Regions from separate parts of the Homo sapiens genome. Here all the other regions are reported to be linked to region 2. Evidence: microRNA targets listed by miRTarBase, many of them from high-throughput screens and not tested one by one. Region 2 holds a microRNA gene; each other region holds the end of a gene's coding sequence. Distances are from middle to middle.
What was found. The annotated mature microRNA hsa-miR-652-5p reads CAACCCUAGGAGAGGGUGCCAUUCA and lies in region 2 at 1,484-1,508, shown strand. An mRNA with a match to its seed (bases 2 to 7 or 8) in the 3' UTR can be bound and repressed. Matches are read on the target gene's strand: a 7mer-m8 pairs with bases 2 to 8, a 7mer-A1 pairs with bases 2 to 7 and ends in A, and an 8mer does both.

Region 1: the mRNA of HDX is a reported target of hsa-miR-652-5p. The part of its 3' UTR that is shown has no 7-base or 8-base seed match.
Region 3: the mRNA of BCL2L15 is a reported target of hsa-miR-652-5p. Seed matches in the 3' UTR shown: 7mer-m8 at 1,952-1,958.

The regions. Positions count from the first base shown.
Region 1 is chrX:84,317,850-84,322,849 of GRCh38, reverse strand. It overlaps HDX (highly divergent homeobox), which reads left to right. Exons shown (of 11, transcript NM_001177479.2): 11 at 836-4,972. The coding sequence ends at 961. Among named protein-coding and RNA genes, the nearest start is that of MIR548I4, 95 kb to the right of the region's middle.
Region 2 is chrX:110,053,866-110,059,043 of GRCh38, forward strand. It overlaps MIR652 (microRNA 652), which reads left to right and starts at 1,464; the gene lies at 1,464-1,561. All of the region lies in intron 2 of TMEM164 (transmembrane protein 164), which reads left to right.
Region 3 is chr1:113,876,560-113,881,559 of GRCh38, reverse strand. BCL2L15 (BCL2 like 15) reads left to right here. Exons shown (of 4, transcript NM_001010922.3): 4 at 420-4,744. The coding sequence ends at 437. The region is part of intron 3 of AP4B1-AS1 (AP4B1 antisense RNA 1); the gene reads right to left. Among named protein-coding and RNA genes, the nearest start is that of PTPN22, 7.3 kb to the right of the region's middle.

The DNA.
Region 1 (5,000 bases), 26 Mb from region 2:
GGAAGCAGCAAATCAATCATTAAGTTCAAAGTTCCTCATGGTCAAGTGAACATTAGCATTGTCAGCTGCGTAAAACTTGATTAATCATTTATTTCTTTAGAATGGGTGCATGTTCTACAACTTCAGATAAAACAATTAGACCATGACAAAGCTTATTTCATCATTATTGGATTATCCTTATTACTCAAGCAGAGAAATGAGTAGCCCTCCAGATACATCATTACTACAGATAGATCCACTGATTCAGCTGTGCCCTGGTGGGTGCTTGGCCATCTGTAGGTATGAACATAGCCTTAGGAAAGAAAAAATAAAATTACTTGGTCTTTTCAAGTTGTTAAAATTTAGTCTAAAGTAAAATAGCTGGAGGTTTTTCCTAACTACTAAGTTCTTTCTCCCACTGAAGAACAAAATAGTCTTTTGTTAAATGCAGTCTTCTACAAAGGACAGCATAACTGGCATGAATATTTTAACAAAGAACGCAATTTTAAATCCCTTAAACAGTGATCAATGCACACTCAAAACTAGTATGAAAATCACTAACCTCAAACACTTCAAAGCACTTGGTTCAGAAGAGTTGCTCATTTCCCTCCTAATATCCCCTTTGTACAGGTTCTACTCTACAGAATTCACACTTTCAACATCTAGAATTTTGTTACCTTCTGAATAATGTATGAAGAATTTTTCTTTTAGGTAAGGCATTGTCTAAGATCCTGAAATATAAATTATTCTTTAAATCCATAAGGATAATTCACCATGGGAGGACTACAACTATTAATATAAATTGGAAAACAATCTATCCACATACTAATCCAAAAATATTATTTTTTTTATTCAGGCACTGCTGTCAGATTTACCTCCTGAATTAGAGGAAATGGATTTCAATCATGCCTCACTGGAGCCTGATGATACCTCATTCAGTGTATCTTCTTTGTCAGAGAAAAATGTCTCAGAAAGTTTGTGATTTCAGTTGGAGGGAATATATGATACAGTCTTTTGGCTTCGTAACAGGTGTGCATTTCAAGATAACTGCATTCTGTTGCCCTGGTATTCTTTAGTTGGGAAAACACATTGTTGAAACGGACGTATTCTGTGAAGAATGTACAAGATATAATGGCTACAGTGCAACAAAAATGTAGGTGAAATTTAAAAGCATTGTTTGAGAGAGTATTTTTTTAACTGATGGAACTCTGGAAAAAAATTATATTTAAGTTTCAGCAGTTTAACCCTGAAATTCATTATGTCTAATTTCTAACCAGAGACAAAATAACTAAAGACATTTCAGCATTGCTTATCAAGTTGCTACAGCTTGATTAGTCTTGTTTTTGTAGCCATTACATCTTCTTTCTTCTTCTCTCCTTTTCCTATCATCCACTTACACTTTTTCTCAGGAAAGTGGACTGAACATTTAAAACAAAACTTTAAAAAATTATTTAACTCATTATTTAATGAGTTCTCTGATTTAGTTTTTAACCCCTATGAAAATTTGACTTAAACTAATGACTGAAAATTAAATGATTACAGGTATGTAATTGTAAATTGCTGGTGTTCTTCTATTATCTAACCCAAATATTTGTGTGGGGGTGGGGAAGCACAATGGAAAGGTAATTTAACCAACATAACGTCAAATAAATTACGAAGTGTACAGAAACAAAATGTTGTCAAAATTAGTCTTGATGGGGATTCTTCATTACTACAAATGACAAGTATTGATACGATTGACATTCCAGTAGTAAATTTGTATACCTGGGTTAGATGAAGTGTTACACAAATATTTTAAATTTATCACCATCTTTATAATTCTTTTTTAGTTCTTACATGTTATGAAACAGGAAGTCAAGGTAAGCTGCTGAGATTTTTTAAAAATTTAGTCATTCAGCTTTGCCACAAAATTTACCTCATTTCCATATGAGGCCTGTACAGAGCCATCAGCCAAGGATAGTATTCAAAAAGAGTTATACTACTTTGGTTGTAAATCACAGTCTTCTGAATTCCATGAATACTATTCTATGAGTACACACCTAAAATGGGCAAGCTACCCAGTTTTCTATTATTAGTAGGTACCAGATGGCAACACACTGTAGACTGTTCTTTGTAGTTCTTCCTTTCTGGAGTACCAGATGGTATTACCAAGACCCATAGAAGAAAAAATGTCAGTTTCTCCCTAAGCCCACAGTGTCATATATTTGTGACTTGGCAGTGTGCAATTGTGTTGCATGGTTAAATTACTATCTATACCTAAAAGATTAATGAAGTAGCTGGATGGCTGTTTCAGCCATCAAGTTTCTGTTTCCAATTTGTTTTTAATTTTTGTTGGTACCTAGTAGGTATTCAGATATTTTTAAAAATTTGTAATTAGAGCCAAATTTGATCTTGAAATTTACTAGTACTAACTTATGAACACAGAAAGGCAGTCATAAATGTCTTTACCCTTGAAGTGTCCCATCCTCCCACACACACAAATAGGTAAGCTCCCACTGATAGTCTTTCATTTTGTCACTTATTTGTTTATATTGCTGCCATACTACTGATATGGTCCCTTTGTTAGTAGGAATATTTCAGTGTTCAGATATGCTTCCTTGAGCCATATGGAGTTTTGCAAACAATAGTTAGTTTTTCTTGCTGACAAGTCAAATTCCATTCAGAGAAAGCAGCAGAGAGTAACAGAGCCTCAGATATTACGATTAAATGTACCAGTCACACCAACTCCTCCATGAGATGAAGAGTCGCCCCCATATACAACGAAGTTAGAAACCACTTATTAAGTAGCATGAACAAATTCCAGGCCTTCAAGTCTCTCCTAGGGTCTGCTTCATAGTCATTGAGTTTATCTTTCAAATATAATTACTTCTGCTTCAATTTAAGCCCCTTCTTATTTGGTTCTCATTGCAAATTAACTATAGGTATATTCTCTCCTACAGCTTTTAACACTATAGATTTTATTTGTCACGCATCAGCCATTAGTCACTAAATCGAAAAATACTTGTTGAGCTCCTGCTATAGAGAAGACACTGTGCTGGACATTGGATTTCTCAGCAAGCTGTAAACATCACAAATAATTATTTCTTTTTAACATCTTCTATGATATTAATAAACCATATTTAAGTAGAATTTTTAATAGATTTAAGGTTCTGCTAGGTGTGATTCTTAGAAGGATTCCTAGTCCACAATTTTGAGAGAAAGCATAGATGATCTTTTTGTCTCTGTTTAACATTTCATCAAAATAGAAACTATATAAATCATAACAATACATTTAGAACTCCTTTTGTCTTGAAATTTGTGTTTCAGCACCAGAATATTTTTCTTCACCATCATTGGAATTAAAACACTTCTAAAATGAAATGTGGCTATTCTGTAGCAGGAACTGAAGGAAATACCTCTATCTATAGAAAAAGAATCATAATTGCCAGATTGAAATTATTCATGGTAGACTTTGAAAAAGATGTCAAGGTCAAGCTTTGAAAAGTTGTTATGAAGAAAGTATATTTTTTACATATGTAGATAGGAGTTGGTTTTGAGATATGTTAGAGCAGGAAAAATTATCAGCTTATAATTACTCTTGTGGACATCTTCATGGCTGGGGATAAAAATTAACTAACTAGTGTTTCTTTCTTTAGGGCTTTGAGATTATTAAAACAGACCTTACTATCTGAAGGCTCTCTCAGGGAGACAGAAGCCAATGTGGAAAAAAACAAAAAACAAAAAACAACAACAAGAAAAAACTTCTTTTTTTCTTTCAACTACATTTCTATGTCTGCTTTAAGCTTAGAACAGCCAAGCAGTTTTTAAGCCAGAAATGTGTATGTAAGAGCACTTACCTTCCAAAATGTGTACATATGAAAAAAAAAGGAAGGTATTTTCTTCTTTTCAGCCAAGCTAAACTTATTCACAAGAAAATGAGAATTGCAATTGCTCTGGAGAATAGGAAAATTAGCACATGCAAAGAAAACCTTAAAAGAAAATTGGCCTCTTCATGGAAACTGGGGATGTTTTGTCCTAAGGTCAGTTATCAACAGCAGGATTTTTGTATTGCCATTGCAAGCATGTGATAGAAATGTTTGTTATTGTTGGAGAAGAAAAGGCTGAGACCCAATTATACCCTGTACTCTTTATTCGACCAAGACCTCAAAAGATGTCAAAGAAGCCATTTCTCCAAAGACAGCAACATCTATTGTGAGGCACTTTCATATTCAGCAGTCTGTAAGTTTGTAGGAGAAAACATAAGTGGTTAATTTAAAATAATTTTGGGCTCTAAAATGGACTTTGTTGCCTTTTTTGGTGGGGGTGGTGGGAATCGGATTCAGCCCATTTCCAAGGGATAGTTTCTTCATCTCAGACAACTATTTTGTGATCCTTTTTAAAAGACATTCTGAAAACTTTAACTCCTGCCCTTCTTCCGTATTACAGTTGTGTTATTCCAGAAATATTGTCTACTTTTTTAATATATTAGATTTTCATTCAGATCTTAAACATGCAAACATGTGATAGGTTAGCTTTTTAAGGGAGTTATCAGTACCACTGTATCTAAATGTTAGGTAAATGGGTAGATTTCTCTTTGAAGTTGGTATTTTCCTTGGCAGACAGCACTGTATCATGCTCTTCACCAAGCTATGCTCTGTAATGCTATAATCAAGGAGGCTACTAACTTGTGAACCTACAGTCAACACACCATTGCTGAAAACAAACTTTGATTAAGAACAGATTTGCTAGGGGGAAAAAAGAGTAAAGTGATATTTTCAAGCAAATATAATTAAAATTGTTTCATTAAAATATATACTGAGTGTATATTGCTCCACACTGAAATTTTATTTTGCATTAACTTGTTAAGTAATTCATTTTAGCAATCCTGCATCCCATTTTACTAGTACTACCTCTGAAATATACTGTCACCTTAAAACCACATCAGACTGTAATGTGAATTTTTGTAGAGTTTTTATTTAAACTTTTATAGAGGCAATAAATGATTTCCAACTAATAGACATCTATTTCTTTATTTTAATATT
Region 2 (5,178 bases):
ACCGTCTTCCCTTCTCTTCCAGCTTATGTCCTGGGCTGGGCTCTGGACAGGGAGCAGAGGCAGATGTGCGCATGTGTTCTGGAGGACTTTTATATGTCCGATGGTGTGTTAGGCACTATGTGGAGTGGAGGCAGAGGGAACTCCAGAAAAGATAAATTATCTTATGGTGGAGACAAAAGGTAGTATTGGCAACAAACATGACCTCTGGAATCAGATAGTTTTGGGTTCCAGGCCTGACTCTTTGACTCACTTATTAGTTGTGCGACCTTAGGCAATTTATTTAACCTTTCTGTAGCTCAGTTTCCTTGTATGCAAACAGGAGGAAAATAATAATCTCTTACATAATAGGATTGCTATGAAGAATATATGAACTAATATGTGTAAGACATTGACTGTAGTGCCAGGCACCTAGTAAGCACTCAGTAAGGAATAACTACTGCCATTATTGTTGTTACTAACAACAGTATGAGACTAATAAGTGATTAGTGTATAAGTACCAACAAATACCAATGGAGTTCAGAAAAAGAATGCTTAATTTTTGTGACTTATCCAGGAAATCTCTAGAGGAGACAGAAGAAGTGGAATGAAATATTCCAGGTGGAGCAAATATGAAAGTGGGAGGCTGAACTGAACTGGAGTGGGGAACAAAAAGAAGAAACAAACGCAACATCTGGCACCCTTGAGCTCTACCACCAGCTCACCTGTTGTCACTACCAATATGTCCAGTCCTTTATGGCTCTCCATTTTGGAGTGCCCTGAATTACTGGCTGCAGTTTTGACTTGGCCAGCTAGTTGGCCAGCTGCTCTGACTGAGCTTGAGGGTGTCTGTGCCTTGGTGGAGTTGACACGGGTCCTAACTCTGCAACTTGGTTTGTAGGTTCAAAGCCTAATTTTTATCAGCTTACCCAGGGCTGTTGGTTTCTAGTGGATTGGGTCACACTCCCCAACATTACAAAACACTTCTTAATAAATCACCAGGCTGATAAGTCGATTGATGATGAGAGAGAGACCTTTATAGAGATGAGAACACTTGTGTGTATCAGCCCTTTCTGATATCAAGGTACCTGAAGCCAAATTAAACAGGGACTGTTTTATAACCTAAAATCAGAACCTAATGGAGTTGAAAAGTCTCATGAGCGAGACCATATAGGCTTTGGTAGTCCATGGAAAACTGTACCTTTTTGCATGTCTGTCATAGCTTTGTAGTGTGACCAGAATGTGTGTCCTGTTCTCTCTCCACTGCTGGAGAAACATCAGTAACAATTTTTCTCTTGGATGTTCCTGTTTTCAATTCCATGCAAATGCTGTTTGTGTGCTATGGCCATGCTATTCTCTTGAATTTCTTTTTTCTTGACAAGATTTTTGAGTTGCCTACTTCTCAGCGACAACATAGTGATTCTCTCATTGAGTGTTCTTTTTGGCTTTGTTCTCAAACACTAGGAATGTTTCCAAGCAGGGCCGCCACGAATGGCTATGCACTGCACAACCCTAGGAGAGGGTGCCATTCACATAGACTATAATTGAATGGCGCCACTAGGGTTGTGCAGTGCACAACCTACACAACTGTACTCGGCGGCCCTGGCATAATGTAATGTCAGTACTTTCTTCATCAAGGTACCAGTTTGGGATTGTCCTCAGGGTAAGGGGGCTGAAGCAGTGAGCTGCTGCTGTGACCAGGAAAGGAAGAAAGAAGTAAAGTTGTGGCTTTGGGAGAATTATCTTCTCTGTAAATGAGAGCCATCATATAGGAGAACTACGTACCTTCGTTCTTTCAGTAAATAGTTTTTTAAGTGCCTACTATGTGAGGGTTGAAGAACAGGGAGGGGTTTGCATAGGAGGGAGCATTTGAACTGGGCTTTGTGAAAGAAGTAGAATATTAACATGTGAAGATGAGTCAGGAGGAGAGAATCTCAGGGGGAAGGAATAGCGAGAAGAAAGACAGATGGGAGACCACAAGGGATATATGGGTAATGGTGCATAATTCATCTTGGTTGGATAGAAAAGCATGTAAAAGGGAGTAGTGAGCAATGATGCTGGTCGGGGGTCAAATGATGATGCAGGAGGGGAGGGAGTTGAATGCCCAATTAAGGAATTTGGACTTTTATTTATCAAGCAATAAGGAGCTATCCAAAGTTTGTTTTTTAAACAGCTTTATTGGGTTATAATCATATACCATATAATTCATTCATTTAAAGTGTACAATTGAATGTTTTTAGTATATTCACATATATGTGCAACCACCACCACAGTCAAATTTAGAACATTTTCATCATCCAAAAAATAACTCCATACGATTTAGCTCACCCCCCTCCCTACCTTTCCCCCACTCACCAGCCCTAAGCAATTGTTAATCTACTTTCTGTTTCTATAGATTTTATCTATTCTGGACATTTCATAGAAATTGAGTAATTATAATATGTGACCTTTTTCCACTGGCTTCTTTCACTTAGTATGTTTTCGAGATTCATCTGTGTTTAGCATGTATCAGTACTTCACTTATTTTTATGGCCAATTAATATTCCATTTTAAGGATATGCCACATTTTATGTATCCATTTGTCTGTTGGTGAGCATTTGGGTTGTTTCTGCCTTTTGGCTATTACAGATAATACTTCTGTGAACATCTGTAAGTTTTCAGGTGCACATAGGTTTTTATTTCCCTTGGACATAGGTTTTCATTTCCCCCAGGTATAGGAGTGGAATTGCTGAGTCATATGATAACTCTATGTTTAACCTCTCAAGGAGCTGCCAGACTGTTTCTCTAAAATGGCAGCATCATTTTACATCCCTACCGACAGTATAAAAGGGTTCCAATTTCTCCACATCCTCATGCACACTTGTGTTTGCCTTTTATATTTTGGCCATGCTAGTGGGTATGAAGTGTCATCTCATTGTGGATTTGATTTGCATTTCCCTGATGACTAATGATGTTGAACATCTTTTCATGTGCATGTTGAGTACCCGTGTGTTTTCTTTGGAGAGATGTCTGTTCAAGGTTATTTATCTTTTTATTGTTGAGTTTTTTTAATACTTTAGCTATTTTTAATGTATATATTTAAGGTTTTCAACTTAATGATTATATATATATATGGAAATCACCACAATCAAGATAACACATGCATTACATCATAGAGTTATCATTTATGTGTGTATGCGTGTGTGTGTGTGTTGGAAATACTTAGGATCTATTCTTATAGCAAATTTTAAGTATACAGTACAGTATTTTCACCTATAGTCGCCATGCTGTACATTAGATATCCAGGACTTACTTGTCCTGGAAAACTAAAACTTTGTACTTTTTGACTAACATCTTACTTTCCCAGCACCAGCCCCAGCTAACCATCATTTTATACTCAGCTTCTATGAGTTAGACTAATTTACATTTCATATTTATGTGACATCATAAGATATTTTTCTTTCTGGCTCATTTCACTTAACATAATGTCCTTTGGGTCCTTCTGTGTTACTGCAAATGATAGGATATCCTTCTTTTTAAAGGCTGGATAATATACCACATTTTCTTTATTCATGCATCCATCGATGAACATTTATCTTGTTTCTATATCTTTGCTATTGTGAATAACGGTGCAAGGAATATAGGAGTGCAGATATCCCTTTGAGATCTTGATTTCAACTGTTGGATAAGTATTCCAGAAGTGGGATTGCTGTGTCATAGAATAGGTCTTTTTTTTTTTTTTTTTTTGAAACTATACTATTTTTGATAATGGCTCTATTGATCTCCATCAGCAGTTTTCCAGGGTTCTGTTTTCTCCACACCCTTCCCAATATTGCCATCTTTTGCATTTTTTATAATAGCCATTCTGACAAGGGTGACATGAGATCTCACTGTGGTTTTCATTTGCATATCCCCAATGATTAGTGATGTTGAGCACCTTTTCATATACCTGTTGTCCATTTGTATGCCTTCTTTGGAAAAATGTCTATTCAGATCCTTTGCCCATTTTAAAATTGGGTTATTTGTATTTCTGCTATTGAGTTTATGAGTTCTTTACATATTTTAAATATTGACATCAAATTTGTGGTTTGCAAATATTTGCTATATAGCTTTTTAGGTTGATGTAGTCCTAATTGTTTTTGTTTGTTTGTTTTTTACTTTTCTTGCACGTGCTTTTGATGTCATATTCAAAAAATCATTGCCAAGACCAATTTCAAGAAGTTTTTCCTATGTTTTCTTCTAGGAGTTTTATGGTTTCAGATGTTACATTTAAGTCTTAAGCCCATTTTGAGTTGGTTTTTGTGTGTGGTGTAAGATAAGAGTCTGATTTCATTACTTTGCGTGTGGATATCCAGTTACCCCAACATCATTTGTTCAAGCAAGCATCTTTTCCCCCATTGTGTATTTTTGACCCTCTAAGGTTCTTTATTCCTTTTCATCCTTTTTTTTCTTTTTCTCTTCTGATGAGGTAATTTTAAATAACTGTTCTTCAAATTTGCTGGTTCTTTCTTCTGCTTGATAAATCTCCTGTTTTTAGTTGAGTCATTGTATTCCTCAGCTCCAGAATTTGTTTGGCTGTTGTTTACAGTTTCTATCTTTTTATTTAACTTTTCATTTTGATCATACATTGTTTTCCTGATTTCATTGAGTTGTCCATCTGTTAATTTTCTTTTTTATTGTTGAGTCTTAAGAGCTATTTATTCTGAATACTAGACTCCTATTAGATACATGATTTGCAGATTTTTTCTCCCATTCTTTGGGTCCCCTCCCCTCCCCTCCCCTTTCTTTCTTTTTTTTTTTTTTGAGACAGAGTCTCACTCTGATGCCCAGGCTGGAGTGTGCAGTGGTGTGATCTCAGCTCACTGCAACCTCTGCCTCCCTGGTTCAAGCACTTCTCCTGCCTCAGCAGGAGAAGTAATCCCAAGTAGCTGGGATTACAGGCATGTGATGTGCCACAACGCCTGGCTAATTTTTTTTTTTTTTAATTTTTAGTAGAGACAGAGTTTTGCTGTGTGGGCCAGGCTGGTCTCAAACTCCTGACCTCAAGTGATCTGCCTGCCTCGGCCTCCCAAAGTGCTGGGATTACAGGTGTGAGCCACCATGCTCAGTCTGGGATGTCTTTTCACTTTCTTAATAGTGTCATTTGAAGCATGAAATATTTTAATTTTGGTGAAGTACAGTATATTTATTTTTTCTTTTGTTGCTTGTGCTTTTGGTTACATC
Region 3 (5,000 bases), not on the chromosome of region 2:
AAATATTGACTGCTGACTACTGTAAAGCTAATCTTCATTTCCTACACATAATCATCTATAAAGTATATTCATGATAGAGTTCTAATTTCAGCCTGGCTTCACTCCGTTCCTTTGTAAATTTCTGGGTCTTTTTTTCCTAACTTCTCTATGTGTGTGTTAGGGAAGTCAGAATCACCTTAATAGTATCTAAGAAAAAACAGTCTTTGCTGTAGTGGTAACTATATAAGGTATTCTAAGCCCATGTTTTAGTAATCATCAGAACTTATGCTGTCATAGAGCACTCCTTTCCATTTACAGGGTCAGTGAAAGCCTTAATAAGAGCTACATTTCCTGGAGCTATCTGCAGATCATTTCCTGGTTTCTTAGGAAGTTCCTGAAAGCAATTCCTTTGACTGTAGGATTTTCTCTGTCTTCCCTAGGAAAATCTGGAGAGCTGAAGAGTTGGAGCTATTCACGAGACTGAACATCACTTCCTTGTTGACTGATTGGGTGATTGATTCCTGGGAATTCAAACAAACAAATAAAAAAGCACTTTTTTCATTTTATCAGAACTGAACTTAGCTGAATAAGTTATTTTTTACTGATTGTTAAAGTTGGGAGCAGCTGCCAGAGGCCTGCAGAGTTGGTTTTTGTTTTGTTTTGTTTTGTCAACTTAATGCAAACCACAGAGATTTTCTACTTTCTGTTTTCACATGAGTTTTAATGAGGTTCTGTTGAAGCAAAGACCCCTAGACACAAAGTAATGACTTGTTAGTAGTGGAATTATAAGCAACAGGGCAGGCCTTTGCTGGAGGTATTTTGAGAGAAAGGGAGAACAATGGAAACTATTTCTTCAGATGTAGCCCTGTCTTTTGGTAAGAATTGTGCCTACTAATTTTGCAATTTAAAGGATTTCAGGAAGCTTTTTGGTTGAAAAATCTTGTTTTTTTTTTTTTAGACGTAGTCTCACTCTGTCACCCAGGCTGGAGTGCAGTGGTGCGATCTCAGCTCACTGCAAGCTCCACCTCCCGGTTTCACTCCATTCTCCTGCCTCAGCCTCCTGAGTAGCTGGGACTACAGGAGCCCGCCATCACGCCCGGCTAATTTTTTGTATTTTTAGTAGAGATGAGGTTTCGCCGTGTTAGCCAGGATGGTCTGGATCTCCTGACCTCGTGATTCGCCCGCCTTGGCCTCCCAAAGTGCTGGGATTACAGGCGTGAGCCACCACGCCCGGCCTAAAATCTTGTTATTTTAAGTTGAGCATTTTCATTCAAAATCATCCCTAAACTTCATGTTAATTTCACCTGAGAAGGACTATTTTATGCATTTTAGAGGTTGGAAGCAAAAAACAAACAAACAAACAAAAACAGTTGTTTCTACTAGGAAGGTCAAAGAAAATAAAAGTTACTCCATTTTTACTGCCACAGGATGCAGGAAGTGCTGGCCCACATCTAGGACAGCAAGGCCACCCCAGCTTAGATGAAGCTAGCTGCATAACACAAAGCTTTAAAAGTGTGGTTCACACACCACTTGTGGACCTTATTGAATTGCTGATTCGCATTCCTAGAGATTCTGATTCTGTAGGGGTAGGCTGGAGCCTAGGAACCTACCTTTTAAACTAGTTCCATAGGTGATTCTGATGTACATATAGAGTGTGACAGCCATCACTATAGAGAATAGATTGATAAATTACAACCCACGCGTCAAATCTGGCTTGCTGTCTTATTTTGTAAATAAAGTTTTATTGGAATAGAGCAACATTCACTTGTTTACATATTGTCCATGGCCGCTTTTGTGCTACAATGGCAGAGTTGAATGATTATAGAAGACCATATGGCTGGTTAAGTCCAAAATATTTACTAGCTGGCCCTTTACAGAAAAAGTTGGCTGACCCCTTCTCTAAATCAACATTTCTCCTTGGTAACTGAAACTCTATTACAGTCCTGACAATTCCAGCAAACACAGCTGTAGATAGGGTTTAAACTCAAAGATATTTAACTCTTCTTTGGGAACTTAGTCTCCATATGTTTGTTAGTTCTTGCATAATCCACAGTTTCTCTGGGTCTTCAGCCAATCAGAGAGCTCTGTAGCTCCTGAGTAGTCCATTTCTCTGGCCCTACAAGTGAGAGTGATTGGAAGCAAAGCTTATGATTTGTATGATCTTGTATCTCAAAATAGTCCTTAATGATCTAATAGATTAGTAGGCAGTCATCAGGTAGAGACTCCAAAAACCAGACTACTTTCCTAAATATCAAGAAGAAAGGCATTGCTACAGTGATTCATGAAAAGCAGCATTAATAACTTTGGCTAAAGTTTAACAAAGCTAACCACTTCCCCTCTATCAGCCAGCCATCTATGTATCTCCTCTAAATGCAGAGAAGTAAATATGTAGTGCTGTTAATACATTTTTGCTTTTTAAAGTTATGCTTTGTCCTGGCGCAGTGGCTCATGCCTGTAATCCCAGCACTTTGGGAGGCCAAGGCGGGTGGATCACCTGAGGTTAGGAGTTTGAGACCAGCCTGGCCAACATGGTGAAACCCTGTCTCTGCTAAAAATACAAAAAATTAGCCAGGCTTGGTGGCACGTGCCTGTAATGCCAGCTACTCAGGAGGCTGAGGCAGGAGAATCACTTGAACCTGGGAGGCGGAGGTTGCTGTGAGCTGAGTTCGCGCCATTGCACTCCAGCCTGGGCTACAAAAGCGAAACTGTCTAAAAAAAAAAAAAGAAAATAAATAAAGTTATGCTTTTTCCTCTATTCCTAGTTAAATCACAACAAGTTAGTAATCCATAAATGATGTGTCCTGTTTCTCTTTAGTAGAAATTATATTTTTGGCTACCAGTTAAGAAACTTGTACTCCTTTGTCCCTTATGTTACTATAAACTCAAGATGATGAGTTTTGTGGTATTTGACTTCATAGGCAAAATCAAAATTTTTACTTTGTTGCTATTCTGTTTTATGAAATAAACTTCTGTCTATGCATTTGAACTAAGTTTCAGCAAATTCAATCTAAATTGAATAATTCCAGCTCCCAGTTTTATCCTATGTTGCTCATAAAACAGTTCCAAGTATACTGCATTATCTTGAGATTTGAAGATATGGTGCCCACGGGGATTATACTAGGCAAATGCGTTAAGCAGCTCTGGCCTAGGTGTTGTGTATTTTAAGAGACTCTATCTTAGGAGAGCTTAAGTGATTGGGCTGCAGGAAGAAGACATTGTAACCCAGGAATTAAAAATGGATTCAGATTGCCTGATTTTAACACTTTAGTTTCACCATAGGCTAATTATGTGACATTGGGCAAGAGACATAATTCTTCTGTACCTTAGTTTCTACATTTGTAAAATAGAGATGATTTGGTAACTTATTAATAAGATTTTTGTGAGAGATAAATAAAACAAATACATTTTGTAAAGGGTGAGTACTTGGAATATTTTAAACACTGTGCCATTAGCAATTTGGAATTCTGTGTTATGCAGTTCATAAGGTTCTAGCTTGACTTTTTTCTCTCTCCATTAACCCTGTCTCTCACAGATGCAAACCACTCTTAATGGCTTTACTTTCACATCAATGTGAGTGATTCCTAAATATGATTTATTTCCCTTCTCAATTCCATACCCACAGATGCTTATTATTTATTTATGTGTACCTTTCTTATCCCCATACTCTCCCTGTTTGCGATACAACTAGCTCAAAACCTCAGTCATTTTTACCTTGTCTCTCTCTCTCCAGTCCAACTCACCCAACTAGTTTTTCTCATTTGTTACTTCATTTTTGTCCTGGTTCTTCTACCAGATTTATTAGCAACTGCCTGGACTATTAATAAAGCCTCCTACTTAGGCTTTCAATAGATTGTTCTGTTCCTGCTCCATTCCAGTCTGTCCTATATACTGCCATCAGATTGATCAAAGCTGTGGTTTCTTTGTCTATTATTTTGATTCATTTTTAGATATGGTATCATTCATTTTTAAATTTAACATACCAATGAAGATTACAAGACTTAAACATCTTATCAGAAGGGGGCATTTATTTTTTAAATCAAGAAATAACTTTCCAAAAGCATTGCTTTGAATGCCATTCTCTTAAAGTCCTTCAGTGGAACTTTTGAGTGTGATTAGACATGTTCATTATCTTGATTGTAGTGATTTTATGGGTGATGATTTCACACCAACTTATCAAACTGCATACTTTGAAATGTGTAGTTTATTGTACATCAGCACTACCTTAATAAGGTTGTTTTTTTTAAAAAAAAAAAAAAAACCTTCAGCTGCTCCCTACTGTTCATCAAATAACAGTCTGATATTCAAATTCCCCCAGTATCTGGCCCTAACTGCCCTATATAGCCTTAATCAATCATGATTCTCCTCTACAATCCCAATGCTCTAGTATAACCGAGCCAGTCACTAAAGCTGCCCTCCTCCTACTGTTCCCTATGTTTCATATTCCTTTTTCTGAGGCTCTACCTGTAGACATCTTCAAGACCCAACCCAACTGTCATGAAGCCTTCTCCATGAAGGCTATCCATATAACCAGAATAAGAAGTGGTCTTTGCCTCCTTGAACTTTTGTTTGTACCACTTTTATGTTTCTTATCCAAAAAATGGCCTTAAGTTGTAATTATCTGTATAGTCATCTTCCCCACTAGGATAAAGGATTGCTGAATGATACAATTTGTTGTATACTTCTGTAACACCCCTCCTCTTCATTATCTGGCATGTACATCGATATTAAAAATATTCATTAAATGAATGAATAGCTGATTGACTCAGATGAGACTTCAAGTTTGATTATATTTGAAAAGGATGCTAAGCTTTAAGAGTCCTGATGCTCTTTATTTTAAAAAAAAAATGCTTCAGGCTGGGCTCGGTGGCTCACGCCTGTAATCTCAGCACTTTTGGGAGGCCAAGGCGGGTGGATCACCTGAGGTCAGGAGTTCAAGACCAGCTTGGCCAACATGGTGAAACCCCATCTCTACTAATAATACAAAAATTAGCTGGGCGTGGTGGCACATGCCTGTCATCCCA